Homo sapiens: one gene and its partners. The protein of the gene in region 3 purifies or fractionates together with the protein of the main gene of each other region. This does not show direct contact. Each region holds a gene or a part of one and is shown on either strand. Other genes may lie near its edges. The genes, in order: CRACR2A, ANKRD13D, IZUMO1 and SLC39A11.

What was found.
Region 1: the proteins of IZUMO1 (region 3) and CRACR2A purify together in Homo sapiens (affinity purification with mass spectrometry; 2 studies listed by BioGRID and IntAct, with this or other methods). This does not show direct contact.
Region 2: the proteins of IZUMO1 (region 3) and ANKRD13D purify together in Homo sapiens (affinity purification with mass spectrometry; 2 studies listed by BioGRID and IntAct, with this or other methods). This does not show direct contact.
Region 4: the proteins of IZUMO1 (region 3) and SLC39A11 purify together in Homo sapiens (co-immunoprecipitation; 3 studies listed by BioGRID and IntAct, with this or other methods). This does not show direct contact.

Annotation. Positions count from the first base shown.
Region 1 is NC_000012.12:3,672,911-3,680,670, reverse strand, and holds part of CRACR2A (EF-hand calcium-binding domain-containing protein 4B), read left to right. Parts: intron 1-321; coding exon 322-433; intron 434-1,572; coding exon 1,573-1,756; intron 1,757-7,078; coding exon 7,079-7,225; intron 7,226-7,760.
Region 2 is NC_000011.10:67,292,166-67,299,925, reverse strand, and holds part of ANKRD13D (ankyrin repeat domain-containing protein 13D), read right to left. Parts: coding exon 7,746-7,760; intron 869-7,745; coding exon 802-868; intron 397-801; coding exon 315-396; exon of another isoform or gene 305-314; intron 100-304; coding exon 38-99; intron 1-37. UniProt on the Homo sapiens protein: Ubiquitin-binding protein that specifically recognizes and binds 'Lys-63'-linked ubiquitin. Does not bind 'Lys-48'-linked ubiquitin.
Region 3 is NC_000019.10:48,743,349-48,751,664, reverse strand, and holds the start of IZUMO1 (izumo sperm-egg fusion protein 1 isoform 1 precursor), read left to right. Parts: upstream 1-4,755; 5' UTR 4,756-5,230; intron 5,231-5,732; 5' UTR 5,733-5,805; coding exon 5,806-6,040; intron 6,041-6,376; coding exon 6,377-6,451; intron 6,452-7,125; coding exon 7,126-7,212; intron 7,213-7,469; coding exon 7,470-7,490; intron 7,491-8,139; coding exon 8,140-8,220; exon of another isoform or gene 8,221-8,257; intron 8,258-8,316. Other genes in the region: FUT1 (galactoside alpha-(1,2)-fucosyltransferase 1), read left to right, coding at 384-1,481. UniProt on the Homo sapiens protein: Essential sperm cell-surface protein required for fertilization by acting as a ligand for IZUMO1R/JUNO receptor on egg.
Region 4 is NC_000017.11:72,648,570-72,656,329, forward strand, and holds part of SLC39A11 (zinc transporter ZIP11), read right to left. Parts: intron 700-7,760; coding exon 601-699; intron 393-600; coding exon 234-392; intron 1-233. UniProt on the Homo sapiens protein: Zinc importer that regulates cytosolic zinc concentrations either via zinc influx from the extracellular compartment or efflux from intracellular organelles such as Golgi apparatus. May transport copper ions as well.

The DNA of each region.
Region 1 (7,760 bases), on a different chromosome or scaffold from region 3:
AGATAATAGTGCCTAGCTCAGAGTGTTGTCATGGGAATTAAATGCAGATAGATAAATAAATGCATATTTACATATTTGTTTATTTATAAATCACCTAGCAAATGGCCTAGTACATTCGTAGGCACCCAATCAATGGTAGTTGTGCTAACATGCAAAGGAGGAGAGGGATGGTGAAGCAGTCTGGATGCAGAAGCTTTCTACTGGCTTTTGTAGGACTGGGCCGAACTCTAGACACTTTCTGGCAGAAGGCTCTGCAGTCCCAGGTCACCTCCCCCACCAGTGAGTGTCAGTGTTAACCAGTACACTCTGGGTTGTTTTCAGAGGCTGCATAAGGAGCTACCGCTCAGCCTGGAGGAACTGGAGGATGTGTTTGATGCCCTGGATGCTGATGGCAATGGCTATCTGACCCCACAGGAGTTCACTACTGGATTTAGTAAGTTCTGATGGGTGCTGGGGACCTCAGGGTTATGGGTCTACCTAACACTGTATAAGGTGCATTCCTGTCCCTTGTAGACCTGGGGGGCAGGTAGTAAAGCTTTCCTGCCCTCCTTTCAGGGACCTGGAGCTCAAGGTCTCCAGGCTCTAGATTGCTTGGGCCTCCTCACATGCCCGTCTCAACTGCTTACATTGCCGCTTGCTCAGTGCCCACTGCACTGCCATTACCAAGCTCCCTCCCACTGGGACTGGCAAGGGAGATGGACGGAAGCTCTGCAGAAGCCATAGCATAAAAGGGGGAGCTGTGATGAGATTTGCAGCCTCTCCTTTTCTGCCTTCATAGAAAAATGGCCAAAAGGTGGGACAACTGGATGGCTCATTCCAACCCAAGTCTGGCTGAATTTTCCAGGTTGAGGGATAACAGCTATCAGAGGAATTTCTAGAAGGTTTGAACAGACTAGACATTCTCAAGGTAACCAGGAGGAAGAAGAATCGAGATCTATGAACAATATAAAGAAACCAGACACACTATCCTATCAGATACATCAAAAGCCATATATCTGCCTTATGTGTGGGGCCATATAATTTTCTTGTAAGTATCTGATGCCTTTCCTGACCTTCAGGAGCTTCTAATTGACTTGGGAGGATAAGACAGACTGCTGTAACACTGGACAGTATGAGTATGGAGGAAGTACACTGGAAACTGTTAAGGAGCTTGTAGATGTGAAGTCTAGTGATGCTAGCGGGAGGATGACTAGGATGACAATAGGAGCCTCTGCAGTCAGGGTGCTGGAATGCAGTGCAGGGAAAGGCCTTGTTGCTTAAAGAAGAAATCAACGGAGATGCGTTCTAAGCCAGATGTTAAGGGACTGAGAACCACAAAGGAGACACCGTATCCGTCTTACATTCTGCCATTCCCAGATTCTAGCATCACTGATGGGGTGTTTGTGGAAGTGGAAAAGTCACAGAATCTGGAACGTGTCCACGGACCCATGTCCATGGATCTTTGCTGGAGGGGCTTTCCCTTCCCTTTCCTTCTCTCAGATGAACCTTCAATGATTCCTGGCAGGTGAGAAAGCTGAGCTCTTCCTGGATGGGTATGGTCTAATTCGGATCCTTGTGCCCTGCACCCCCCAGGTCACTTCTTCTTCAGCCAGAATAACCCAAGTCAGGAAGATGCAGGTGAACAGGTGGCCCAGCGCCATGAAGAGAAGGTGTATCTGTCCAGAGGGGATGAGGATCTGGGCGACATGGGCGAAGATGAGGAAGCCCAGTTCCGGATGCTGATGGACAGACTTGGAGCCCAAAAGGTGTTGGAAGAGTAAGTGGTGACAGTGATTTGTAGAACGGAGACCAGCCTGGTAGGAACCTCTTCCTGTGTCCATTCAACAATTAACATTTGTTAACCATGTGGTGCTGGTCCCTGCACTGGAATGCAGTGCAGGTAAAGGCCCGCTGGTTCTGCCAGTGGGGGCCTGTCCTTTGTGATGACCTGGCTGTGTGTTGGGCTCTGTCTCTGCTGTTTACATTTTTTTTTCTTTAGGAATCATTCCTATTCTCCTTCTCTCCCACCCCCTCTACCTTCCTCACTCCTGGCCATGCATTATCCCCCAGTCCTTGGCTCAGCCTTGCTCCTCATGAGGCACTCACACATCAGAGGTCTGTACCATGCTCTCAGGGTTTTTCATGGAGTTCTCCCTAAGGCTTCCTATCACCATCAGCTCCCCAGCATCTTTACCTCTCCTGGGTCTCTAGAGCTACGGTGCCTCCCAGCTGCCCCAGCTGTGGGTGCCTTCCTGGCCAAAACCCATCATGTGGAAGCATTTGCACACGGTATCCTCGGCAAACCAGGCTTGTGCAGGAAGCCAAGGTGGGAAATGAAGCAGTTTTTAGCAGGCCACTACTTGGAAAATTGTAGATGGCTGAGATCTCAAACAAAACATAACTACCCCTCCACCATTTTTTTTCCTAAAATGTGCTTTGGAATAGACACAGGGATCTAAGCCCTGACATTGAAGTAAAGTAAAATAAAATAAGGAAAATGTGGTGTTACAGCTAGTAGAAACCAAACAGAGGGCCTGAAAAGCATGTAATACCTTCTGCCCCTTTAGCCTTTGCCTTTGGCCTTTTTGTTTTGGGGTCCTTAGGTCTTGGGTTAGATGTATGTTTCCTGTAGTGTGGGAATGCCCTACTGATTACAGCTGACATTTCCTGAGCTTGGGAAGAGAAGGGGCTAGGGTGGAAAATGATAAAAAGGAGACAAGAGAGAAGAGGCCTATATACGATTTGCAGGCCGAAGCTCTGTGAATTTTTCAGCAAACAATTTGGTAGACTGTGGCAGAACTGGGAAAGGCTGGCGAAAGTGTGTTCCAGGCAAGAAAGGGATAGGCAAGTGCCTGGGGAAGATCCTGGTGGGGGCGCTACACAGGAAGTGGAACTCAAGACCAGCAGCAGTAGCAGGTTTGCTGAAGGCCTGGAAGGGGCTGCAGCAGGTGTCGACCACAGAAGGTGTAGCTGGCAGGTGGAAGGGGCACAGGTGGGTGGGAAGCTCATTAGTCATACACCTGACCCAGCTTCTCCAAGGACAACAGGCCAGAGCACAGAGACCATTCCTGGTGACAGTGTGACACCTCCTCCTGGAGAAGGGGGAAGGAGAAGGCAGTGCAGGTGAGCTGAGGCACCGTAACGGAAGGAAGGGGCCTCTCTGCCCAGCCCTCACTGCAGGGTAGCAGCCTTACTGGCAAGGTTCTCAATTAGAGTCCACCAGACGTGACTCTGAGGACCTATAGTAAGGCAGTGCAGAACTGAGCCAAAATGAGATGTCCCGAAGAAGAGGAGGTTTTGTGGAGGTTTCAAGAGTGGTCTGTAAAAGATGATACACAGAAGATGGTGACCAGCCACTTCCATCCTCACTGAAGTGGGCTTAGATTGCAGCATGAGGGAAACATTCACGGCTGTGAGACCTCAGATAGGGAAATAGAAAAGGCTATGAATATTTGAGGGCTCTTTAAAGATTTTGCTCACCAAAATGATTTGTGTGTTGTTCTGGAAGCAGTGAAATGGATTGATAAACCTCCCAGAATCCTTTCTAGCCTATACTCCCATATCCTCCCAGGAGGGGTGGCCTTGGTGTGTTCTAGAAGTTCGAGACTGGGCATCTGCACTTTGACTTTTCTTGGTGGTCCGATTGGCTAAGCGATTTGGCAGCTTAGTGAGCTTTGGCTTGTTTTTCATCAAAAGTTGAAAGACTTGTCCCTTCTCCAGAAATCTGGGGCAAGTTGTTGTTGCCATGACTAAGTAGTTCAAAGAGTGTTGGAAGAGGAGCAGGTGGGTCTGCAAATCTCACTGGGGACTTGAGCTCAGTTGGCTCCATCAGGAACCTGGCAGGTGTGGACAGACAGACCTGGGCTGGCAAGGTGAACCTTGATTTTACAATGCATTTACTTCATGGTGGCGTGTCTCAGTCCATTTGGTTTGCTGTAATACCTGCCATAGATGTGGTACTTTATATAAATAACCAAAATTTATTTCTGGCAGTTCTGGAAGCTAGGAAGTTCAAGATCAAGGTGCCAGCAGATTTGCTCTCTGATGAGGTCACATTCCCTCATTCACAGACAGTTGTCTTCTCACTGTGTCCTCATATGGCAGGAAGGGTGAATGAGCTTCCTCTGGCCTCTTTTATAAGGGCACTAGTGCCATTCGTGAGGGCTCTGCCTTCATGATCTAATCACCTCTCAAAGTCCTCATCTTCTGGCACCATCATGTTGGGGTTAGGATTTAAACATATGAATTTGTAGGAGATATAAACATTCACACCACAGCAGGGAACAACCTATAACAGGGATGGGAGGTCACCATGGTGTCTCTCTGAGACCCTCTTATCTCTGAACCCTTTGCCACATCTAAATTTTACCTATAGGATGAAATAAGACCCCCACAACATGCTGTGTGTGTGTTGTGGGGCTGGGAGGAATGGAACTCATTCTGAGAAACAGAGAGGTTCCTTACCTCCTTTTCTCCCATTTCCCAGATTCACCCATGACATCCAGTACAGTGCAAGGTTTACAACAGATCATAATAAATACTTGTTGAGTTAATAAGGAAATGGGTGGGTGGATGGATGGATGGATGGATGGTCTAAATAAGTACGCGGATGTTTGGATGGGATAGAAGAAAGAATTGGTGGAAGTGATGGAGCAAGGAAAGGAGGGAGAGAGGGATGAAGTGTTAGAGATGACCAGATAACTGATCAGAGGTGGGCCTATTTCTCAGTGGTCCTCTTCTCTGCTGGGTGCAGAGAGTCATGTCCATTTCCCAAGAGCGTTGCTAGCATGGCACTATTGAATATCCCTTCTGAATAAGGTTTCTAAAATATAATGCTTAATAACGCAAGCACAAAGGATTTTATTCCTTCTCCTGAGGGTTCCTTGTCAGAGCTATCCTCAGATCTTCTGTTTCTGGAATTTAATGGAAGACAAGTCACATTTACGTTTCTGTTTTTGTGGTTTTTGTCTTAAAGTGATTTATTAGTGAGGTACTCCCAGAAGAAACTGGCAAGGGATTTGGGGAAGTGGGACAGGGAAAGGAAGTAAAACAAATAATGGCGTAATTTTAGGAAGAGTCCTGGTTCTCCAGGGGTATTATTTATGTAGTCATAATAGTATAAACATTTATTTAATATCATATTTGGGAGTTAGCATACAGAGTTTTAAAACAATACTAATTATAGAACACAGTGTCAATGGCACTAGTCCCATTTGTGAGGGCTCTGCCTTCATGATCTAATCACCTCTCAAAGGCCTCACCTACTGATGCCATCATGTTGGGGGTTAGGATTTAAACATATGAATTTGTAGGAGATATAAACATTCACACCACAGCAGGGAGCAAGCTGCCACAGGGATGGGAGGTCACCACCCATTTCTCAGTGGGCCTCTTCTCTGCAGGGTGCAGAGAGTAATGTCTATACCACAGGGGCATTGCTAGCATGACACTAACAAATATCACTTCCGAAGAAAATTTCTAAAATATAATGCTTGTTATACAAGCACAGATAATTTTATTCTTTATCCTGAGGATTCCTGGGGAGCCAACAGGAATCTGTTGGTGGCAGATTGTCAAGGTGCAGATGACTGTAATGGACAAGCAAATTTTGGAAAGAGCTCAAGAGAAGTATAGGCATACAGATAACTTTATCCTCATAAAACGAGGGTCATAAGCGATTTTCCATAATCAGGTTAAATTAATTAAATGTGAAATATACATTACATAAAGTCTCAAAGTTTAACAGAGTAAAAAATCAAAATGTAATTATGTTGAAAGGATGGAAGGAGGTGAAGGACTTATATTTTCAATAGCTGGAAACTTGAAAGATTAAGACACAGAGTGAATATTTAAGTAACAAAAGACTTTGAGAAGACAATGAACTGAGCTAGTTATTACATCTTGTTATATAGATGTGAAAAAAGTGTTGGAAAATACATATGTGCCCATTAATTTAAAAAAATCAAAAGCCTGATTGTTTGCGGGATAAGATTTATATTTATTCTCTACTTTGCTAGAATAAAGTTTAATTGATAATTTATAATAAACTAGCCTGTGAAATTTCACTTGAACTCTACTGTTTATTATTATATAACTTTCAAACTTGATGCTATAACACTCTACTGTCTGCTAGCTGTGAGAAATTATTAACTTTTATTGAATTAAAACCTATCCTCTTTCAGATTTATGTTTAACTTAGCTTGATCATTGGCCACAGATTTTTTAGTTTCCCCAGAAAGGGAGAACAGGGTCCACCATGTGTGTCTCCTCCTCATTCCCTCCCTGGGTGTCAGCCTGAGCCCCTGTATCTCTGTCACTGAGCTGTGTACACACGTGCCTCTGTGCCTTTGTCTATTGGCCTCTGGGTCTCCCAAGTCTCTCTCGCCTTGTCTTTCTGTGTGTGCGCATCTTTCAGACTTGCTCCTTCCCTTCTTTTTGCCTGTCAGTCATCCCTAGTGCCACTAGGCCACAGTGGGGTGCTGCATATTCTCTTCCCTTCCTGCAGTGACAATTGCTTTCTGCCATCCATCACATGGCACGTCTTTACCTCTCAGCAGTGAGGACCATCCTTCCTGGGGGCAACGAGCTCTCTGCTTTAGCTCCATAGTGTGTGTCCTTAAACGCACTGGGCTCCTGTCCTCCTGTCTTCTTCCTGGCATTTGGAGATGCACCAGAGCATGTTGCTGTGCACGCCCAGCCCCACGAGCCCGTCGTGAAGGCCACGGGAGAACAGAAGCAGCAGAGCGAGGTGGGGAAGGAGGCCAACACCGGAGTCAGACAGCCCTGAGCTGGACCCCTGACTCCATCAGTGACTGCTGGGTGATCTTAGACAGCTCACTCCACCTCTCTTCACCTGCTTCGTCATCTGTAAATGGGGTAATTGCAGCTCCTGCCTTGTAGGGTTATTGTGAGGACGAAATGAGCTGATATCCTTGAAGCTCCTCACATGCAGCAAGCATTCGGTCCACGTTAGCTACTGTCATCTTTATAATGATTCTGACGGTACTGTTTCTGGCTGTCAGTTTCCTGTCTGGGAACCTCTGTATTTCCCGTGAAGCCTCATCTCCACACTTCCACATGAGCGTCCCTTCTCTTGCAGTGAAAGTGATGTCAAGCAGCTCTGGTTGCAGCTGAAGAAGGAGGAACCTCATTTACTGTCCAACTTTGAAGACTTCCTGACCAGAATCATCTCCCAGCTCCAAGAAGCCCATGAGGAGAAGAATGAACTGGAGTGTGCCCTAAAAAGGTGGGTACCCCAGTGTCAGCCGCTTTCTGTAACTATGTGTGAAAAAGAGAGACACACGGTGCACTTTCTCTTAGATCTTCTGCCAAAACATCGTGCAATGCCTCCTTTTGCTGTCTGCCAAAGTGGGGACCAGGCCCTGTGTCTGTCACGATATATGTATTTTTAAGCTCTCCGTCACCTTTTTAAGCTATATGGTAGGCACTATTCTAAATACTTTTTATACACTAGCTTATTTAGTTCTCACCACAACGCTTTGAAGGAGGGACTGGTTATCATTTTGCACATTTATTATCTGCACATTTTGCAGGCGGAGGGTTGGAAACCCAGAAAGGTTAAGTAGTACACCCCAGAAGGCATAGCTTGTGAACAGTAGAGCCAGGACTGGGAGTGAGCTAGCCAGGTGCCTGTGACCAGAAGAAAAATCACTCTGCTTGCCTCCAGGCAGTAAGACCCCAGCATACTGGGCCATCCCCCAGGGCCAGATCAGCCCACTTTGCAGAGGTGGCGTGTTTGGTAAGGTGACCTATAGCCCTGC
Region 2 (7,760 bases), on a different chromosome or scaffold from region 3:
CCCCCGCCAGCCCTGTCTCGGCCCAGCCCCGGCTCACCCCGGTGTGGGAGGAATGCTGCTGCGCCATCCCCAGGAAGGACTGGAATGGAGTCTTCCCCGCTACGGAGAAGGGGTGGGAGCTGGTAAGGGGTCACAATGCTCGCATCGCCCCTGCCCACCTCCACCCCTGGAGCCTACTGTCTGGGGGAAGAGGGGTCAGACGGGAATGGGGAGGCCTCCCAGCTCATCCTGGGAAACTCTGGCCCCTAATCCCAGGCCAGGGTGACCCCACCACACGGTGTGACCGGGCAGCAGGCAGGCGCACCTGGGTTTACCTTTGCTCCTCGACTTGTCCTGATCAGAGAGGTGCTCCGTGCGTGTGCGTGTCACCAGCTCCACGTTGGTGGCACTGTACACCTGGGGAGCAGGGGACACGGGGAGCTGGGGGCTCAGAGCCTGCTCCCCACACTCAGCCTCACCAGTGCAGAACCCAGGTCCTCCTGTCCCAGAGACAGATGAGATCTTGCTCCCCAAAATGGAGGAGGTGGCAGGGTCTGAACCCCAGGAAGTCACCAACGAGGAGATGCAGCCCCAGGGTCAAGAGGAACACACTCCTCTTTTGATCTCGGTACCCTGGGTAGGGGCCCATGATGTGGGTGAGCCCTGTGTACTCCGCAGGGGCTGGGCACTCAGGCCCGCTGAGTTCCCACAAATGCTCAGGGTTTCCAGAGCCCAGGGGCTACTCTGGGATGGATGTGGAGAGGAGCTGAGTTCCTGGACCTCATCTCCTACCCCCAGCCCCCCACCCCTAGCCTCTCCTGCCTTGGCCTCGTAGCCGCTAACAGTTTCCATCTTCTCAGACCGCCAGCCCCAGATACCACATTTGTTCCTGAAACAGACCAAACAGGAGCTGGTGAGACCTGCACCCTCACACGCTGGCCAAAGCCTTCCTTTCCAAAGCCCCCTCCAGCCAGCCTGCCCGGGGTGCCCAACTCTCAGGGCCCCTTCTCGCTATGAAACATGGAGGACCCCTGAAGAGGGTGCCTGGACAGGGGGGGACACTTGAGCATGGACTTGGGACTAGAAGACACTGAGGAATTAGCATGAATCTTGTGAGGTATGATAGTGTCGGGGCTGGGTTTAAAAACATCCTTGTCTTTTAGAATTGTGCAGAAGCATTTACTAGAAACATTAGGACATCTGGGATGAGCTTTGACACACTCTAGGAAACATTTTTAAAAAAGGTAAGGAAGGATAGATTCAGTAAGATTGGCAAGATGTTGATAAATGTTGAAGCTGGGTGATGAGTAAGTACATTATCTCTTCTTTCATATATGTTTGAAATTTTCCAAAATAAAAAGCTAAAAGAAAAGTATGTCAGTTGGAGACTCCAGTACCCCACTTTCAATAAGGGATAGAACAACTAGAAGATCAACAAAGAACCAGAAGATAAGAACAACACTACAGCTGGACTTCATAAGCAGGCTAGAACACTCTACCCAATAACAACCACACACACGCTTCTCACGCGCACACGGAACACTCTTCAAGGCCATACACTAGGCCATTAAGAAAACCTCAATAAGTCCGGGCGCGGTGGCTCATGCCTGTAATCCCAGCAGTTTGGGAAGCCAAGGGGGGTGGATCATGAGGTCAGGAGATCGAGACCATCCTGGCAAACATGATGAAACCCCGTCTCTACTAAAAAATACAAAAAATTAGCCGGGCACGGTGGTGGACGCCTGTAGTCCCACCTACTTGGGAGGCTGAGGCAGGAGAATGGCGTGAACATCGGAGGCAGAGCTCGCAGTGAGCAGACAGTACCACTGCACTCCAGCCTGGGCGACAGAGCGAGACTCCGTCTCAAAAAAAAAAAAAAAAAAAAAAAAAGAAAACCTCAATAAAATTGAAAGGATAGAAGTCATACAATGTATGTTTTCCAACCACAATGGAATGAAATTAGAAGTCAATAGCAGAAAAAAAAAACTTTGGAAATTCACAAATATGTAGAAAGTAAACAACACACTCCTAAATAGCCAACGTCTCAAATAATAAATCAAAAGAGAAATCAGAAAATACTCTGAGATAAACAGGAATAAAGACACAACATATCAAAACTTATGGCCGGGCACGGTGGCTCACGCCTGTAATCCCAGCACTTTGGGAGGCCGAGGCAGGCAGATCACAAGGTCAGGAGATGGAGACCATCCTGGCTAACACAGTGAAACCCCATCTCCACTAAAAATACAAAAAATTAGCCGGGCGTGGTGGCAGGCGCCTATAGTCCCAGCTACTCGGGAGGCTGAGCCAGGAGAATGGCGTGAACCCGGGAGGCGGAGCTTGCAGTAAGCCGAGATCGTGCCACTGCACTCCAGCCTGGGCGACAGAGCAAGACTCCCTCTCAGAAAAAAAAAAAAAAACCAAAAAACTTATGAGACACAGGTAAAGGCCAGGCCAGGCCCGGTGGCTCACGCCTGTAATCCCAGCACTTTGGGAGGCTGAGACAGGCAGATTGCTTGAGCACAGGAGTTCGAGACCAGCCTGTGCAACATGGTGAAACCCCATCTCTACTAAAAACAGAAAAAATTAGCTGGCGCCTGTGTTCCCAGCTACTCAGGAGGCTGAGGTGGGAGGATCACTTGAGCCTGGGAGGCGGAGGTTGCAGTGAGCTATCACACCACTGCACTCCAGCCTGGGCGATGGAGTGAGACCCCATGTCAAAAAAAGAAAAGACATGCCTAGAAGTATAAATGTAATATGTGTGAATGCCTATATTAAGAAAGAAGATCTCAAATCAATAACCTTAACCTAACCTTCCATGTTAAGACAATGGAAAAAGAGCAAACTAAACCAGAAAGAACAGAAAGAAATAATAAATATTACAGTAAAGGTTAATGAAATAGAGAATAGAAAAATAATAGAGAAAATTAATGAAACCAAAAACTGGCTCTTCGAAAACATCAACAAAATTGACAAACCTTTAGCTAGGTTGACCACGGTGGGCAAAAAAAGAGAGAGAAGACTTGGCTGGGGGCGGTGGTTCACACCTGTAATGTCAGTGCTTTGGGAGGCCAAGGCAGGAGGATTGTTTGAGGCCAGGAGTTCAAAAGCAGCCTGGATGACATAGTGAGACCACATCTCTACAAAAAAAGAAAATTAGCTGGGCTTGGTGGTGCATGCCTGCAGTCCCAGCTACTTGGGAGGTTGAAGAATCACCTAAGCCCAGGAGTTCAAGGCTGCAGTGAGCTCTTATCATGCCACTGCACTTCAGCCTGGGTGACAGAGTAAGACTCTGTCTCAAAAACAAAACAAAACAAAACAAAACAAAACAAAACAAAAACTTCAAATTACTCACCAGAATCAGAAATGAAAGAGGGGAGCAACAGAAATAAAAAGCATTATAAAAGGATACAATGATAGCTGTACACCAACAAATTTTATAATTTAGATGAAATGGACAAATTCCTAGTGAGACACAAACTACCAAAACTAATTTGAGAATAAATAGATAATCTGAATAGATGGATAACAAGTCAAGAGACTGATTGGTAAATATAACAACAAAAAACTATACACACATACACACACACACACACACACACACACACTCAGGCCCAAATGGCTTCACCACTGAATCCTACCAATCTTTTGAAGACAAATTAATACCAATTATTTGCAAACTATTAAAAAAAATAGACAAAGAGGTGACATTTTCCACTTCAGTTATGAGGCATCACCCAGATACCAAAACCAGACATATATCACAAGAAAACTACAGACCAATATCACTTATGAATATGGACACAAAATCCTCAACAAAATACGAACCAACCAAATCTAGCAACATATGAAAAGAATTATACACCACAACCAAGTGGAACTTATCACAGGAATGCAAGGTTGGTTCAATATCCATAGGTCAATTGATGTATCAATAGAATTTTTTAAAAAATCACATGATCATATCAATAAACACAGAAAAAGCATTTCACAAAATCCAACATCCTTTCATGATAAAAACACTCTAACAATGAGGAATGGAAAGGAATTACCTTAACCTGATGAAGGGTATCTACCAAAAACTCACAACTAATATCATACTTAATGGTAAGACTGAATGTTTTTCCCCTAAGATGAAGAACAAGACAAGAATACAAGGATGTCTGCTCTAACCACTTTTCTTTTCTTTTTTATTTATTTATTTACTGTTTTAGATGGAGTCTTGCTCTGTCACCCAGGCTGGAGTGCAGTGGCACAATCTGGACTCACTGCAACCTCTGCCTCCTGTGTTCAAGCAATTCTTGTGCCTCAGTCTCCCAAGCAGCTGGGACTACAGGTGCCCACCACCATGCCTGGCTAATTTTTTTTTTGTTTTTGTATTTTTAGTAGAGATGATGTTTCACCATGTTGGCCAGCTTAGTCTCAAACTCCTGACCTCAAGTGATCTGGCTGCCTCAGCCTCCCAAAGTTCTGGGATTACAGGCGTGAACCACTATGCCCAGCCTGCTCTAACCACCCCCCTTTTTTTTTGAGATGGAGTCTTGGTCTGTCGCCCAGGCTGGAGTGAAGTGGCGTGATTTTGGCTCACTGCAAGCTCTGCCTCCCGGGTTCACACCATTCTCCTGCCTCAGCCTCCTGAGTAGCTGGGATTACAGGCGCCCGCCACCAAGCCTGGCTAATTGTTTGTATTTTTAGTACAGATGGGGTTTCACCATGTTAGCCAGGATGGTCTCGATCTCCTGACCTCGTGATCCACCCACCTCGGCCTCCCAAAGTGCTGGGATTACAGGCGTGAGCCACCGCATCCAGCCTCTAACAACCTTTAATCAATATTCTACTGGAAGTTCTAGTCAGAGCAATTAAGCAAGAAAAAGAAACAAAAGGCACCTAAATTGGAAAGGAAGAAATACAACTAAATCTATTTACAGATAACATAATCTTATATGTTAAAAAAAATACTGAGGAAAGGAATCCACTAAAAATCTACTTGAATGAATGAGTTTAGCAATGTTGCAGGATACATGGTCAACATACAGAAATCAATTGTAATTTTATACATTTGCAATACACAATCAAAAAATAAAATTAAGAAAAACATTTGATTCATAATTGTATCAAAAAGAATAAAACCCTTAGTGGCCAGGCACGGTGGCTCACACCTGTAATCCCAGCAAGGTCAGGAGTTGGAGACCAGCCTGGTCCGACATGGTGAAATCCTGTCTCTCTAAAAATGCAAAAATTAGCAAGGAGTGGTGGTGGGCACCTGTAATCCCAGCTACTTGGGAGGCTGAGGCAGGAGAACTGCTTGAACCCAGGAGGTGGAGGTTGCAGTGAGCCTAGATTGTGCCACTGCACTCCAGCCTGGGCAATAGAGTGAGACTCCATCTCAAAAAAAAAAACAAAAAAACAAAACAAAACAAAAAACAGAATAAAACACTTAGGAATAAATGTAACAAAAGTGCAAAGCTTACACTCTGAAAACTATAAAATAATGTTGAAATAAATTAAAGAAGATCCAAATAAATGGAAAAACATCCCATGTTCACGGATTAGAAGACTTAACATTGTTAACATGGTACTATTCCCCAAACTGCTTTATAGATTCAGTGCAATTCCTATCAGAATCCCACCTGACTGTAGAAATTGACAAGCTGAATCTAGAATTCATATATTCTGCCTACACTGGGTTGTGAGAAAAAAGAAAATAGAATTCATATAAAATGCGAGGGTCCCAAAATACTGAAATAACCCTGAAAAAGAAAAACAAAGTAGGAAGACTCACACTTTCCAATTTCAAAACTTATTGCAAAGCAACAGTGATTAAGACAGTATAATATTGGCATAAAGACAGACATGTAGACCAATGGAACTAATGTGGGAGTCAGAAAGTAACCAATTTATCTATGGTCAACTGATTTTCGACAAGGGTGACAAGACCATTCAGTGGGAAAAACATAGTCTTTTCAACAAAGGGGGCTAGGACAACTGGATAGTCACATGCAAAAGAACCTTCCACTATACACAAAAATTAACTTAAAATGGCTCAAAGACCTAAGTGTAACAGCTAAAATTATAAAACTCCTATGACTCAATAATCAAAAGATGACCCAATTTTTTAAATGGGTGAAGGGATAGGTGTGGTGGCTCATGCCTGTAATCCCAGCACTGTGGGAGGCCCAGGTAGGCAGGTCGCTTCAGCCTAAGAGTTTAAGACCAGTCTGTAGACTCTATCTCTACAAATAACTAAACAAAACAATTAAATGATATAATAAAATAATTACAAATAATTTAAAAATTAGCTGGGCATGGCAGCATGCACCTGTAGTCCCAGCTACTTAGATCACTTGAGCCTGGGAGGTGGAGGGTGCAATGAGCCATGATCATGTCACTGCACTCCATCCTGGGTGAAAGGCCAGACCCCATCTCAAAATAAATAAGTTAATTAAGTTAAATAAAAAATGAGTAAAGGATCTGAATAGACATTTCTGCAAAGAAGATATACAATTGACCAATAAGCACATGAAAAGATGCTCAACATCATTAGTCATCAAAGAAAGGCAAATCAAAATCACAGTGAGCTATCACTTCTCACCCACTAGGCTGGCTAGATTCCAAAAACAAATGAGTGAATAATGACGTGTTGATGAGGATGTGGAGAAACTGGAACCCTCACATGCTGCTGGTGGGAATGTAAACCAGTACAGCTCGTTTGGTAAACAGTCAATTAAACAATGAGTTATCAGTAACCTAGCAATTCCACTCTTAGGTATATACCCAAGAGAAATGAAAACATATGAAAGAGAAATTAAAACATACGTCTACACAAAAACTTGCACATGAATACTTAGAGTGGCATTATTCATAAGCCAAATAATGCAAATAACCCAAATGTCTATCGATGGGTTAATGAATAAACAAGATATGGTATATTCATACAATGGCCACAAAAAGGAAAGAAATAGTTACGTGCTACAACTTGGATGAACCTTGAATATATTATACTAAGTGAAAGAAGCCAGACACAAAAGGCAACATATTATAAAATTCCATTCATATGAGAACTCAGAGCAGGGAATTCTACAGACACAGAAAGTAGATTAGTGGTTGCTTAGGACTGGGAGAGGGGATAAGAAGTTTGGCGAAGAGTTAGCTAAAGGGTGGGGGGTTTCTTCCTGAGGTGATAAAAATGTTCTAAAATTGACTGTGGTGATGTACAAATCTCTGAATAAATATACTAAAAGTCATTGAACTGTATGCTTTAAATGGGTGATCTTATATGGTATATGAGATTATATCTCAATAAAGGTTTTTTGTTTTTTTTTTTAAGTGTTTCCACTGACTGTTAAGGCAAGAGGGGGCATGTGTTGTCAGAGAAACTCTTGCTGGAAGGGTCAGGTTCCTAGGCTACCCACAAAGGATTCTGCCCCCAACACAGCCGCACCAATGACAAGCCAACATTGGTGCAAAGAGCTGCCGTGAACCACAGCCTAAATCTTTGTCTTAATGGGAAAACATATGAGGTCAGAAGTCAAGAAACTGGGGACATCTTGACCTGACCCCTCCCCACAAAGGTGGCCACAGGAGCCCAACCACCCCGGCAGTCTGAGTGAGACACGGGCTGCAGCAACCCACCTGCCCCTGAGCAGCCCCTTGTGAGTGAGCCCAGAGGCCTGAACCAGGATCTTCAAGGATCGCCCTGCCCTCATTAATGGTGGCTCTTGCTATCCGTCCCCATCCCACCCACGGTGTGCCAGGACCCGACCGACCTCTCAAAGGCCACA
Region 3 (8,316 bases):
CAAGCTAATTTTAAAATTTTTTTGTAAGAGTGCTCTGTTGCCCAGGCTGATCTTGAACTCCTGGGCTCAAGGGATCCTCCCATCTCAGCCTCCCAATATGCTGGGATTACAGGTGTGAGCCACAGTGCCCAGCCAAACCATGGCTATCTTGAAAACCACTTGTCTTCCAGTCCCCATGCCCCGAAATTCCAAGGCTCTCATCCCTGAAACCTAGGACTCAGGCTCTCCCTACCTCAGCCCCAGGAGTCTAAACCTTTAACTTCCTCTTTCCCTGGGACTAAGGAGTGCTGCACCCCAGGCGCCTCCCTTACCCCACATCCCTCCTCAGCCTCCCCTCCTCAGCCTCAGAGCATTTGCTAATTCGCCTTTCCTCCCCTGCAGCCATGTGGCTCCGGAGCCATCGTCAGCTCTGCCTGGCCTTCCTGCTAGTCTGTGTCCTCTCTGTAATCTTCTTCCTCCATATCCATCAAGACAGCTTTCCACATGGCCTAGGCCTGTCGATCCTGTGTCCAGACCGCCGCCTGGTGACACCCCCAGTGGCCATCTTCTGCCTGCCGGGTACTGCGATGGGCCCCAACGCCTCCTCTTCCTGTCCCCAGCACCCTGCTTCCCTCTCCGGCACCTGGACTGTCTACCCCAATGGCCGGTTTGGTAATCAGATGGGACAGTATGCCACGCTGCTGGCTCTGGCCCAGCTCAACGGCCGCCGGGCCTTTATCCTGCCTGCCATGCATGCCGCCCTGGCCCCGGTATTCCGCATCACCCTGCCCGTGCTGGCCCCAGAAGTGGACAGCCGCACGCCGTGGCGGGAGCTGCAGCTTCACGACTGGATGTCGGAGGAGTACGCGGACTTGAGAGATCCTTTCCTGAAGCTCTCTGGCTTCCCCTGCTCTTGGACTTTCTTCCACCATCTCCGGGAACAGATCCGCAGAGAGTTCACCCTGCACGACCACCTTCGGGAAGAGGCGCAGAGTGTGCTGGGTCAGCTCCGCCTGGGCCGCACAGGGGACCGCCCGCGCACCTTTGTCGGCGTCCACGTGCGCCGTGGGGACTATCTGCAGGTTATGCCTCAGCGCTGGAAGGGTGTGGTGGGCGACAGCGCCTACCTCCGGCAGGCCATGGACTGGTTCCGGGCACGGCACGAAGCCCCCGTTTTCGTGGTCACCAGCAACGGCATGGAGTGGTGTAAAGAAAACATCGACACCTCCCAGGGCGATGTGACGTTTGCTGGCGATGGACAGGAGGCTACACCGTGGAAAGACTTTGCCCTGCTCACACAGTGCAACCACACCATTATGACCATTGGCACCTTCGGCTTCTGGGCTGCCTACCTGGCTGGCGGAGACACTGTCTACCTGGCCAACTTCACCCTGCCAGACTCTGAGTTCCTGAAGATCTTTAAGCCGGAGGCGGCCTTCCTGCCCGAGTGGGTGGGCATTAATGCAGACTTGTCTCCACTCTGGACATTGGCTAAGCCTTGAGAGCCAGGGAGACTTTCTGAAGTAGCCTGATCTTTCTAGAGCCAGCAGTACGTGGCTTCAGAGGCCTGGCATCTTCTGGAGAAGCTTGTGGTGTTCCTGAAGCAAATGGGTGCCCGTATCCAGAGTGATTCTAGTTGGGAGAGTTGGAGAGAAGGGGGACGTTTCTGGAACTGTCTGAATATTCTAGAACTAGCAAAACATCTTTTCCTGATGGCTGGCAGGCAGTTCTAGAAGCCACAGTGCCCACCTGCTCTTCCCAGCCCATATCTACAGTACTTCCAGATGGCTGCCCCCAGGAATGGGGAACTCTCCCTCTGGTCTACTCTAGAAGAGGGGTTACTTCTCCCCTGGGTCCTCCAAAGACTGAAGGAGCATATGATTGCTCCAGAGCAAGCATTCACCAAGTCCCCTTCTGTGTTTCTGGAGTGATTCTAGAGGGAGACTTGTTCTAGAGAGGACCAGGTTTGATGCCTGTGAAGAACCCTGCAGGGCCCTTATGGACAGGATGGGGTTCTGGAAATCCAGATAACTAAGGTGAAGAATCTTTTTAGTTTTTTTTTTTTTTTTTTGGAGACAGGGTCTCGCTCTGTTGCCCAGGCTGGAGTGCAGTGGCGTGATCTTGGCTCACTGCAACTTCCGCCTCCTGTGTTCAAGCGATTCTCCTGTCTCAGCCTCCTGAGTAGATGGGACTACAGGCACAGGCCATTATGCCTGGCTAATTTTTGTATTTTTAGTAGAGACAGGGTTTCACCATGTTGGCCAGGATGGTCTCGATCTCCTGACCTTGTCATCCACCTGTCTTGGCCTCCCAAAGTGCTGGGATTACTGGCATGAGCCACTGTGCCCAGCCCGGATATTTTTTTTTTAATTATTTATTTATTTATTTATTTATTGAGACGGAGTCTTGCTCTGTAGCCCAGGCCAGAGTGCAGTGGCGCGATCTCAGCTCACTGCAAGCTCTGCCTCCCGGGTTCATGCCATTCTGCCTCAGCCTCCTGAGTAGCTGGGACTACAGGCGCCCGCCACCACGCCCGGCTAATTTTTTTTGTATTTTTAGTAGAGACGGGGTTTCATCGTGTTAACCAGGATGGTCTCGATCTCCTGACCTCGTGATCTGCCCACCTCGGCCTCCCACAGTGCTGGGATTACCGGCGTGAGCCACCATGCCTGGCCCGGATAATTTTTTTTAATTTTTGTAGAGACGAGGTCTTGTGATATTGCCCAGGCTGTTCTTCAACTCCTGGGCTCAAGCAGTCCTCCCACCTTGGCCTCCCAGAATGCTGGGTTTATAGATGTGAGCCAGCACACCGGGCCAAGTGAAGAATCTAATGAATGTGCAACCTAATTGTAGCATCTAATGAATGTTCCACCATTGCTGGAAAAATTGAGATGGAAAACAAACCATCTCTAGTTGGCCAGCGTCTTGCTCTGTTCACAGTCTCTGGAAAAGCTGGGGTAGTTGGTGAGCAGAGCGGGACTCTGTCCAACAAGCCCCACAGCCCCTCAAAGACTTTTTTTTGTTTGTTTTGAGCAGACAGGCTAAAATGTGAACGTGGGGTGAGGGATCACTGCCAAAATGGTACAGCTTCTGGAGCAGAACTTTCCAGGGATCCAGGGACACTTTTTTTTAAAGCTCATAAACTGCCAAGAGCTCCATATATTGGGTGTGAGTTCAGGTTGCCTCTCACAATGAAGGAAGTTGGTCTTTGTCTGCAGGTGGGCTGCTGAGGGTCTGGGATCTGTTTTCTGGAAGTGTGCAGGTATAAACACACCCTCTGTGCTTGTGACAAACTGGCAGGTACCGTGCTCATTGCTAACCACTGTCTGTCCCTGAACTCCCAGAACCACTACATCTGGCTTTGGGCAGGTCTGAGATAAAACGATCTAAAGGTAGGCAGACCCTGGACCCAGCCTCAGATCCAGGCAGGAGCACGAGGTCTGGCCAAGGTGGACGGGGTTGTCGAGATCTCAGGAGCCCCTTGCTGTTTTTTGGAGGGTGAAAGAAGAAACCTTAAACATAGTCAGCTCTGATCACATCCCCTGTCTACTCATCCAGACCCCATGCCTGTAGGCTTATCAGGGAGTTACAGTTACAATTGTTACAGTACTGTTCCCAACTCAGCTGCCACGGGTGAGAGAGCAGGAGGTATGAATTAAAAGTCTACAGCACTAACCCGTGTCTCTGTAGCTTTTTTGGAGCCAGAGCCACTGTGTATGTGTGTGTGGGTTTGTGTGTGTGTGTGTGTGTGTGTGTGTGTAAGAGAGTGGAGGAAAAGGTGGGGTACTTCTGAAGACTTTTATTTTTTTTTAATTAATTTATTTTTTTTCAGAGATCGAGTCTTGCTCTGTGGCCCAGGCTGGAGTGCAGTAGTGTGATCTCGGCCCACTGCAAACTCCCACCTCTCGGATTCTGGTGCCTCAGCCTCCCAAGTAGCTGGGACTACAGACGTTCGCCACCATGCCCAGCTAATTTTTGTATTTTTAGTAGAGACGGGGTTTCACCATGTTAGCCAGGCTGGCCTCGAACTCCTGACCTCAGACAATCTGCCCGCCTCGGCCTCCCAAAGCGCTGGAATTACAAGCGTGAGCCACCGCGCCGGGCCCTGAGGATTTTTATTACTCGTGATTGGGAGTACTGTCCCTACTTAGATCTGACAGCCCCTTGTTGCTGGACTTGTGTGAGTTGTGGTCCCTGTTTTTCTGGTTCCCTGTTTCTATCACACAGGAGAGAGAGACCTTCCAGGACCCTAACGTCTGAGCCCCCAGTTGCTCACTCCTGGACTGTCAGTATTGGCCCCCAGTCCTCTCCTCCCACTGGGACCTCCGCGTGGGCAGAAGAGGCGGAGGAGGGAGCGGATTATCACTGAACTACATTTCCCGGAAAGCTATGAGGTTGGCAGCGTCAGTCAGCTACAGAGAAAGAGGCCCCAGGGCATTTTGGGAGTTGTAGTCTTAGGGCTAAAATGTCCACTTCGTGGCTCGACAGCCGTTTCCAAGGACCGCGGTGGGGGCGGCAGCGGCCTGGGGGGCCGGATCTAGCCCAAAGCCTGGGTCCTGGGGCAAGGGGAGGGGAGGAAACTGAAGGCCTGAGTCCGGTCCTTGACTCTGGAAGCCAGAGTAGTCAGGAGGCTTCCTCTTCCCTAGATGCTGGGAAAATTCTAGTCCAAAAAGGCTGCAGCCTCTGTGACGTCATGGAGCGATGGGCGGGACCTCCCTTTGTTGCAGTCCAATCAGACAGAGTTGAGTTTCTGGGTGGGGCCGAGGAAAACCCCAAGGAATATCTATAAAGGAATTCGGGCCCCTACGTGAGAAGCTCGGAGGGGGTGGTTTCAGGAGTTCCTTGTGGAGAGGGGATCGTCCGTGACTCAGACCCCGTCGAAAAGCTCTCGATTTCACGCAACCAACCTTACCCTCGTCCCCAACACAATCCTTGATTTTACCCCTGGGAAAATTAGCGTAGGTGGTCATGACCCCGGCTTCCTCTTTAAAAGCCCTCAGAACCTGGACCGGGCTCCTCAATGAACCCTAGTGTTAGAGGCCACAAATCGGGAACCAAGGTCGGGGAGCGGCTGTTTAGGGTGCATCACTGTTCAGGATGCATCGGGGCTCCTTTTTCTAAGCGGAAGGGTGCGCCCTGCAAATTGGGAGCCCGTTAGTTTTGGGGAAGGGTGAACAAGGGCCCCCTAGGTCTAGAGGACCGCATGGAGTCTCGCTTAAGTGTTAGTGGGGTCCTCAGTTCTAGGAATCTGGTATGTGTTTTGGTTTTGAAGGAGTTCCGAGTTTGATAATATCGTGGTTGGGTCTGTGTTAGATGTTTATTGGTTTGGGCATTGAATCTTCAGCTTGAGGTTCAACAGGTTTTGGGGGGCTGGCGGGGGAGTGCCTCGGTGTTGCTCTTAAGGGTTGGAGTTCAGGCTCACGTCAATCTGGGGACTTGGAAAATTCCACAGTTTGGGATTTTGGGAAGGGGCGCATGGGGTTGGGAGATTCCAGGTTCTGAGTTTGGGGACTTATGAGTGATTCCTGTTTAATAGTTTTTCTGATCTCTCAGTTGGGGGATTCAGTGAGAACCCTAAATTTTGGGTCCCCTGGATTGGGGCTCAGTTTCACACTTCGGAGGCATTTGATGAAGGACATAGGTCCTCTTTATTTGGAGATTTCCTGAAGATCCTCTTTTCGAGGTTTGCGGACCCCATGGATAGGCGGCCCAGTGGGATTTCTTAAGATGGATTTTGGCTTTTCTCCGTTTAGCGTTCTCCTGCTCTCGGTTTGGGGTGAGAGCACCCTTCCTAACGGTCTTCGGGAACTGTGCGCGCCGGCTGCAATGGGGCCGCATTTTACCCTCCTGTGTGCGGCGCTGGCCGGTTGCTTGCTTCCTGCCGAGGGGTGTGTTATATGTGACCCGTCTGTCGTGCTGGCGCTAAAGTCCCTGGAGAAAGATTACCTGCCTGGCCACCTGGATGCGAAGCATCACAAAGCCATGATGGAAAGGGTAGAGAATGCCGTGAAGGATTTCCAGGAACTGTCGCTTAATGAGGATGCCTATATGGGGGTCGTTGGTGAGGGCAGGGGGGACCACGGACCCCTGGGTCCTGGGAAAGGAGGGAGATAAGACCAGGGGAAGGAAGAGGCTGACAGCAGGGTCTCCGGGATTCGGGAATGGAGAAGGCTGAGATGCAGATTCCGAGGTTCCCCGAGGCTAGTAAATACCGTTTTCCCTATCCTCGGCTGGCAATTTTATGTAATAAAACTACAACTCCCAGAAGGCAACGGGCGGCTGAGTCCTTAACCAGGCCTATCTTTGCCCAGTGGCCTCATGGGTATTGTAGTTTCTAAGATTAGGCGCGCCAATGAGACAGTAAGGCTGGAATCTGGGGTTATATCTCCTCTGACAGATGAGGCCACACTGCAAAAGGGGTCCTGGAGTTTGCTGAAGGATCTGAAACGCATCACAGACAGTGATGTAAAAGGTAAATGCATCAAGGGGGTGGGAGTCCCGAATCTCTCAGAGAAGCCAGCGTTAGTGATGCCTGGTCTCTTGGTCAGATACTAGGCTGTGGACCCAGACCGCCTAGATTCCAATGCCTGCTCTGCCACTTCCTAGCTGTACGGCCTTGAGCAAAGGACTTTGAAGCTCCCTTGGCTCTAAAATGCTTCCTCAGTTGTTCAGTTTAAATGTGTATTGCTGGCCGGGCACGGTAGCTCAGGCCTGTAATCCTGGCACTTTGGAAGGCTGAGGCAGGCAGATTACTTGAGCTCAGTAGTTCAAGACCAGCCTGGCCAACATGGTGAAACCTTGTCTCTACAAAAAATAGACATATGTATACATATTAGCTGGGCATGGTGGTGTGTGCCTGTAGTCCTAGCTACTTGGGGGGTTGAGGCGGGGGGATTGCTTGAGTCCAGGAGTTTGAGGCTTCAGTGAGCCACGATTACACCACACACTCCAGCCTGGGTGGCAGGGTAAGACCCTCCCCCATCCCCCAAAATATGCATTGCCTAGCCCAGCAGCTGGCATTATGTTAGACGGTCAGTTGTAGCGCCCTTTCCTGAGAAGGCCAGGAAGTAGACTGCCAGACTCTGCAGGCAGAAGTAAACTTCCAACACCTCACACGTGGGATTGGGGGTTCCTGTGTCTTCCCAGGCGATCTCTTCGTGAAGGAGCTATTTTGGATGTTGCACTTGCAAAAGGAAACCTTTGCCACCTATGTTGCTCGATTCCAAAAAGAGGGTGAGAGAAGATGGGAGTCGGTGTCCCCCAGCTCCTCTTTCCACTATCCAAGAGTCCTTGTCTCCAGCCCCTTACTTCTCCAAGCCCAGTTCCTCAGCTTCCCCAACTGCCTCCTCCTTCAGACCCAAGTCTTTTCTCCCTCGAACCCAAAAGCCCAAAGCCCAGCTCTTCCCCCAACCCCCTCTTCCATCGTCTTTCATTTAGAAATCTGACTCTGTCATCTCTTTCTTGCTCTCTTTTTTTCTCTTTTGACACAGCTTATTGTCCCAACAAATGTGGTGAGTCTGGATTACAGAAGTTAACCCTCATCCTGCCCTCTGAATAGTCAACCTCCCCACTCGCCTTTTTGGATCCTGGTGGTTTTGTCATTCTCTGCCTTGGAGAGGTTCCTGGGTCTCCAGTATTCTTTCTGCACCATGGATTTCTTGGGGAGCAGGTCATATTCTACTTACACTCTTTTTTTTGAGACAGTCTCACCCTGTCACCCAGGCTGGAGTGCAGTGGCACGATCACGGCTCACTGCAACCTCCACCTCCCAGGTTCAAACTATTCTCCTGCCTCAGCCCCCTGAGTAGCTGGGATTACAGGTGCCCGCCATCACACCCAGCTAATTTTTGTATTTTTAGCAGAGACGGGGTTTCACCATGTTGGTCAGGCTAGTCTTGAACTCCTGACCTTGTGATCCGCCCGCCTCGGCCTCCCAAAGTGCTGGGATTACAGGAGTAAGCCACCGCATCCGGCCTCTACTTACAATCTTTACTGAGCCTTGTTGGAGCCCACTTACTACTTACCTGCGTCCTGGTCCTGTGCCTTCGTCTGACCATCTAGGAATGTCATAGATGATCTGGCCCCAGCCCTTAGCCCTGACCTCTCCTTTTAGCCATGCCCCTTAGTGGGCAAATACAAGCCTTGACCCTGCCCCTCCAGGTGTGATGTTGCAAACTCTGATCTGGTGCAAGAACTGCAAAAAGGAGGTTCACGCTTGTCGAAAGTCCTACGATTGCGGGGGTGAGAGAACTGGACCCAGCAGGAGGAATTGGTGCAGGTGGGGTGGGGCGAGAGGAGAGGCAGTCTAGAGAGAGCCTAGATGGGGGTGTGGGGGCA
Region 4 (7,760 bases), on a different chromosome or scaffold from region 3:
GGTGTGTATGCCACTGCCTGGTGTCACCTCATTTCTTGACCCACATGCCCTTAGCTTCTTTTCTTTTAGTTTCAGAGAGCACAGTTGAGGAGGCAGTGGGGATGATCTTGGGAAGGGGCAGAGAGGGGGAGGGAATAAGGAAAGGAAAGGCAAATGAAGAAAGAGCATATCCCAAGGCTGGGGTCCCAGCTGGGACTGGGACAGGGACAGACAGGGAGGGAAGGTTCTCCAACCTGATCTGGGCTTCGGGGATGATGTCGTCCATGACCACGTAGACCATGGCACCGGCAGCAAAGGCCAGAGCGTAGGGCAGGATGGGCTCAGCCAGCACCACGGCAAAGGCACCAAAGACCCCGGCCAGGGGCTCCACCATGCCGCTCAGCTGCCCATACCTAAGGAGAGAACAGAGACATTTACCACCGCAGGGGGAGGCAAGCAGACACTCCACGTGCCCAGACTGTTGGCTCAACCCTAGCACATGGATGCATGCCATTCTACGTCATATCTGAGCATGGCAGTGCAAAAGCACATCACTGTTTTGTTGAAAGAAGCCCACATGGAGGATGCTGTGACATGGCCTTGCCCTTGGGCAGCACTCACCAGAAAGCTCTCCAGGTGGAGAAGCCTGCCCCTCGCAAGGGAAGGCTGACAGCCAGGCCCTCGGGGAAATTCTGGATCCCGATTCCAATGGCCAAATTCCTGAAAAACCAAGAAAGCACATGAAGGCTGCTGTCTGGAATAGGTGCTCACACAATGGGAGTCCCTGGCCGAGGCCAAGACCTCCGTGGGTGCTAGGAAGCCAGGAGGAGACCTGTGACCTGCAGTAGGAGAGGAAGGAGAAAGGTCAGGACGTGTGTCTAGGTAAAGAGCAGGGGCTGCAGGAGGGAGTGACGTGAGCCCTCTACCCATCATGCTGTCCTGGGTCCTGGGCAGGCTCTGTCCTTACAATGCTTTGCTACAGCACAGAACACACTGGCTGGCTCTCAGGGTGCCCTGAGTTCTGCCACGTGGCTGTATAACTGCACTTTTCATTTTACTTTCTACGCCTCTGTTTCTTTTTCTTTTTTTCTTTTTCTTTTTTTTTTTTTTTGAGATGGAGTCTCGCTCTGGAGACTCCAGGCTGGAGTGCAGTGGCATGATCTCGGCTCACTGCAACCTCCACCTCCCGGGTTCAAGTGATTTCCAGCTAATTTTTGTATTTTTAGTAGAGATGGGGTTTTACCATGTTGGCCAGGCTGGTCTCCAACTCCTGACCTCAAGTGATCTGCCTGCCTTGGCCTCCCAAAGTGCTGGGATTATGGGCGTGAGCCACGGCACCCAGCCTACACCTCTGTTTCTTGTATACAATTTAGGGACAACAATATCTACCATAAAGGATTGCTGAGTGACCCAGTGACCCAATAATGCCTATCACATCCTAGCATAGAGAGGTGCTTAATGCATTTTGGTTTCTATTCTGTTACAGCACAGAAATGAGTATATCACATTTTATTCAGAGGCCACTTCAGAAATGGGACAAGGAAGTGCAGCTGCAGACGCTGATGGTGCCACAGATCTGGCTCTGGGCTCAGCTTCTCCGTGGGCTCTGCAGGTCTGGCACCATCGCTGCATTTCTTTGGGCCCCAGTGGTGCTCACAGTGATCCTCTCACCTCCTGCCTCTGCAGGACAGTGACAGGCTGTGCTGATAGATGCCTGTCTTTGAGAAGCTGCTTTCTGCACAAACCAGGCATTGGAGTGTGAGAGGAGGGAGAAGCAAAATGGGATGCGTACAAATGCAATCTGTGACCACATGCCTGGCCTCAGGGGGCTTAGTATTTAGCCATGGAGACAACACAGGCATGTACATGAAGAACCCTTATTGTGGATGCTGCAAACTACAGCAAATCAGCCAAAAGTCAACTTGCACAGGAAACAGAGGCATGAGGGAAGCAGAGGAGGGAAATGGGGCCAGTCCGAGTGCCTTAGGAAGGCCCTTTTGCACGTGAGACTCTACCTTGGCCGGACAGTTCCAAGAAGCAGCCCCTCCATGAAGGGCCATCTGATCAACAATGATCTAAAGGGCGTGAGAAGAGGGTGCCACTCGGCAAGCAATGCTGGTGTGTGGCCCGAGGGAATTGTGGGTAGATTAGATAGAGAAGAGAAACTCCACCATCACCGACTTTCAGGTCAACTGGCTCACGTCCATCCATCTTGCTGCCAATAGGAATCTACCCATTGCTGCAAGGGAGTGTTGTAGACTGGTAGCTGGGACCCCTGCCTATGACCTGCCCCAGGCTCCCGGGACTGGGACACACTCGTGGCCCTGAAGGTCCTGTCAGGCCTGATCCGGCTGAGGCCCAAGTTCCAGCCTCTAACAAAGAACACCAAGGCGAATCCCCAGTTTAGCATCTGACCTCCATTTTGTTTCAGGGTTTGGCCTTTACCCTGTTTTTTTTACCTTTATCCCCCAACTCCTGCACATGTTTCATTGAGGTTCGTAGTTCCAGATACCTCAGGAAGAAGTAGCCCCCACCTCGAGTCTGCCAGTCAAGTAGACTCTTAGGAAAAGTCCAGCCCTAACAGAATCTCATACCTGTCACCACTTAGCTCACATGTGGTTCATAGAATTAGTGCCCATCCCTTTTTGACAAGATTACAATGAGCCCCTCAGCATCTACCCATCAGCTTAAAATCTGCCCCTGTGTGCAACAGCGTTGAGAGCCACTGGCCTAAGCAGGCATCATGGGAGGTGAGGATGAGGAAAGCAGTCAAGCCCACCCCCCTCCCAGGAGCCCCTTCCCTGCTATCCCAATTCCCAACACAGGCTGGGAGCCGAGGACACCTGTGGCCACTACTGAATGCATCAGGAGCCTGCAGCCCAGGGTGCTTACTGTATACAAGATCTGATGTGGAGAGCTCTGGAGGAGATCCGGAGCAACACAGGACAGGAGTAACAAAACAGGTGGCATTAGGGGACATGGATATGTAACAGAAGTGATGGAGAATAGTGAGCACCCCGTGGCAGGGATGGTCCCCCTAGGGTGGGGTTGGGGGAAGAAGCCCTGAGCTGACTTAGGAGCTGTGGGGCCTAGACTGGCTGGGGGTGGGAAACTGTGAAGAGGGACAAAGCAGCTTCCCCAGGGGGCATCTGAAAAGTGATAGCATCCGAAAACTGATCAGTTCCTTAATAAAGGAAATATTATGGTCTCTTGGGACTGACAGAAGCATTGAGCCTGTCTCTCCAACCTGCAGGCAGAACTGTTCATGAAGTGGAGTGGACAGACAAGAAGACACCCCACCACACCAGCCCAGGACATGTCCACAAAAGCTGCATCACTCAGCATTTCCCACGAGTCTACCCAAATCCCTGTCTATATCACCCAAGTTTGTGCTCTCCTTTGACTCCTTAGAGAGGGGCTCAAACATGCTCCAACTTCATCCCTGGATCTAGGGGGCAGCAAACTTTTTCTGTCATGGGCCAGATAGTAAATATTTGAGGTTTTGCAGTCCACTGAGTCTCTGTTGCAACCACTCAACTCTGACATTGCAGGTGCAAAAGTGGCTATGGACAGTACATAAACCATTGAGTGTGGCTGTGTTCCAATAAAACTTTATCTACACAAATGAGTGGGGGGCCAGATTTGGCCCATGGGCTGCAGTTTGCTGACCCCTGCCCTGATAGCTCAGTGGCTGCAGAAAGATCTGGCAAGATGAAACCACAGACCCTGGGCATTGCAGACCCTATCTCTTCTTATGTTCTCATGGCCATGCATGTGGTAGTTGAAGTTTGGGCTTTGCAGTCTGACTTCTTCTGTCCAAATCCTGGGTCTGTGCTTTGTTAGCTGTGCTACTTTCCATTTCTCCAACTGCAGAATTTGAAGAACAATACCCACCCTCACTTCACAGCGTTGCTGATATGATTACCTGGGATGGTCCCTCTCAAGCCCTTAGCACACGGGAGCTAGTATGCAGTAAGCACGTAATCAATGCCTGTCCTGGGGTGAGGGTGAGTGTTATCACTGAGGTTGCAGCGTGAAATAACAGAGACAGGGACTTAAAGCTTTTCCAAGAACTCATGCGTCCTCTTTCCAAGAGAGACTAAGATTTTCTACCCTAAAGCCAAAACTCATTCCTCTGCAAAGCTCTGTTTCAAAGAGACCTGGCTTGGCTGTTTTGCTTATGGCTCATCTATGCTTGAGTTTCCATCGGCACTCACTCATTTGCTCTTGTTGACACTTGTGTGAGATTTTTACATCACTTGTAAGATTTTGGTGAGAACCACTGTGCAACCTGAAGGCATTTCAGATACTGTGTTCCTATATACTGCTTGGTCTGTTTGGGTTGTACAGAAACTCCCGGGAGATGTGGATTCTTGCTTCTCCTAGGCTGGCACATATAGAAGAATTCCTTCTATCACCTCCAGACCCCCCTGAGCCCCAGTAAATGTCTGGAGGCTGGACGCTTCCCTGGGCACAGAGGAGGGGAGAGCTGCTGGAAGGGAGTAGGGGGCATTCTGATGAGCCTGGTGGGCTTGACTCTTCTGTTGCACGCTTTTTTTTTCTTTTTTTTTTTTGAGATGGAGTCTCGCTCTGTCATCCAGGCTAGAGTGCACTGGCACGATCTCAGCTCACTGCAGCCTTCACCTCTGGGGTTCAAGCGATTCTCCTGCTTCAGCCTCCCGAGTAGCTGGGATTACAGGCATGTGCCACCACACCCCCCTATTTTTTTTTTGTATTTTTAGCAGAGACAGGGTTTCAGAATATTAGCCAGGCTGGTCTCAAACTCCTGACCTCAGATGATCCACCTGCCTCAGCCTTGAAAAGTGCTGGGATTACAGGTATGAGCCACTGCACCCTTTTTTTTTGTTTTGGTTTTTCTTTTCTTTTCTTTTCTTTTTTTTTTTTTGAGAAGGAGTCTCGCTCTGTCACCCAGGCTGAAGTGGTGCAGTGGCGTGATCTCAGCTCACTGCAACCTCCGCCTCATGGGTTCAAGCGATTCTCCTGCCTCAGCCTCCCCAGTAGCTGGGATTACAAGTGCCCACCACCACGCCCAGCTAATTTTTGTATTTTTAGTAGAGATGGGGTTTTACCATGTTGGCCAGGGTGGTCTCGAACTCCTGACCTCAGGTAATCTGCTCGACTCGGCCTCCCAAAGTGCGGGATTACAGGTGTGAGTCACCTCACCCGGCCTGCTGCACTTTAAAGTATGGAAAGCTCCATTGGATAATTGAGCCCTGGGGGTCACCTCTGAAGATTTTGTCCTGGGCAGCTGGGGACAGTTTTACACTTCCCTGAGAAGTGCTTCTAGGAGGTGAGGCCCTGGGCAGGAAGTCAACTGTAGCTTACATATCCTCCACATAGTCTTGATCTGTCCTAGTTCAACAGGAGAGAAGGATTTGGAGAAATGAGACAGGATGAAAAAGGAAATCTAGCTACAGATGTTTAGGAAAAAGGTGTCATTCTGGTCCCTTGTGTTTAAAATGTGCGTGTGTGTGCGGAAGGGTGGGGCATGGGGAGTGAGCGGGTGGCCCTGCTTAGCCATCTTGCTTTTCCTTATTTTCTGGGTCCCTAACATGTCTTCCTAGCCAGTCTATAGGGGCAGGACAAAAGGGTCAGGAGCTCTCTTCCTCACCTTGAAAGGTCCTAGGCTCCCCTCTTCTGCTGCTCTGCCAGGGAGGGTGATGGGTGCCGCTTCTGGCATTGGGTATAGGATCGGAGTTAATGGCCTCACTTCTTCCCTCTGGGGCCCCAGGCCTAGGACTCGAAAGCTAGCTTTGGAAGACACTGTTGAACGTTGCTTCAGTTATAGGATGCTGACAAGCGTGTTCTAACCAGCCCTGGGCAGAAATGCGGCCTGTTCTCGCAGCTTCTGCTACCAATTTCATGTGCAAGCTGACCCTGAGCTCCTATTCCAGGAGTTGGAGACATGTGAATATATTTATGTTGAGGACAAATTCTTAAGGATAAATTCTTGCCAATATTTCATAAGCCCCTGCCCCGCCTTCCCAGATAGACCCTCAGGGGGGCCCCTTCCCTGCGACTTTGTTCAGCATCTCCTTGTAGCCCTCAAAATGGTTGAGTGAATACAACCAGCTTCCTTGACCTTTTGCAAAGTCCGAAGTGCAAGGTTTCTTTCCAATGAGGAAGGCCAAGGCTTCTGATATCTTGGGCTTTGCCAGGCACTTGGTGGCTGGCTCTCAGTCCGCTGCCATTGCCTGCACCTCATATTCACAGGCAGGCACACGAAGGTAGCCGCAGAGTGACCAGCCCAATGTCACTGACAAATCAGAGGTGGGGCTCCCCATCCAAAGTCCTCGCCGTGACATAGCGCTGACTACAGCCATCGCCCGGCGGGCTGTGGGAGCCTCCTCCACATCCTGTCTGGGAGCCACCATCCTGATAAGCAGCACAGAAACCCCATTCTTCCATCCCTGGCAAGCCTCGTTACCTCTGCCTTGCCCCAGCCCTGGCACGGGGCTGCCAGCCCAAACAGCTGCCATGCCCTCTGGATCCTGCCAGGCCTTTCTCAGCAGGGCATTGCATTGCTGGGCGGTCAGAGTCCCTCCTGACACTCCTGGGCTCCTTTGCTCCCCAGCAGGGGCTGGCACCACAGTTTCTCTGCCTTTCCTACCTGTCATGCACAACACTGCCTAACTGGGCTCTCCTCCACACACCCGTGCACACGCACAGGCCCATCCAAGTTCCCTCGCCCCGCTGCTTGTTGGGCATTGGTCAGAGGCCCACTGGTGGGGGTGGCCCAGTGGAGGACACAGTCCCTTCCAGCCCTCTCCTCTTCTTCAATCACCTGCATCAGCTCCAGAGTGGGATTTGAATCCACGGCTCTCAGACCTGACGACACATGCCAGTCACAGGGAGCACCGGCAAATGCCGATGCCTCGGCCCTGCCCTGGAGATCTCGGTTTATTGCCGTGGCATTGGGCCCCCTGTGTGCAGATTTTAAGAGTGTGCGAGGGCGTTGAGAGCCACTGGCCTAAGCAGGTGTCAGAGGAGGTGAGGATGAGGATGGAGGCCAAGCCCGCCTCCCTCCCAGGAGCCCCTTCCCTGCTATTCGAATTCCCAACACAGTCTGGGAGCCGAGGACACCTGTGGCCACTACTGAATGCATCAGGAGCCTGCAACCGGGGTGCTTACTATATACAAGATCTGATCTGGGGAGCTTTGGAGGAGATCTGGAGCAACTGAGGGCAGGAGCAGCAAAGCAGGTGGTATTCGGGGATATGGATGCATAACAGAAGTGACAGAGAATATTGAGGACCCCGTGGCAGGGATAGTCTCTCAGTGGTAGGGGGTGAGCCGTGAGCTGACTTAGGAGCTGTGGGGCCTAGACTGGCTGGAGGATGGGAAACTGTGAAGAAGAACAAGGGCAGCCTCCCGGGGGGCTGGTGGCGTGGAGGATGCCCCAGGCTCACCAGCTCCCCTCCTGCAGCCCTGCTGTGCATTCCTGCAAGGCCTTCAGTCTAACTAAACACTCTGAGCTGACGATCCTGGGCAGGTGGGGTTGGTGGGCCATTCCCTCCCTCCTTTACGCTCTGGGAAGGGAAAGGTCAGATGAGAGGTTTCCTTTCCAGGATGGGCCATGAAAATTCAAAACAGCATTCAAAAGCCACGGGGAAAATACAAACCCATGCCCTTCTGAAGACAGTGAAGCTGCTGTCTTCTGGGTTCTGTTCCTCCCCAGCAGTAGCACAAAGACACTATTACTAGTCTGGACCACGACACATTAATGGGAAGGAGAGGGAAGTGGAGATGAAGGGCTCTTT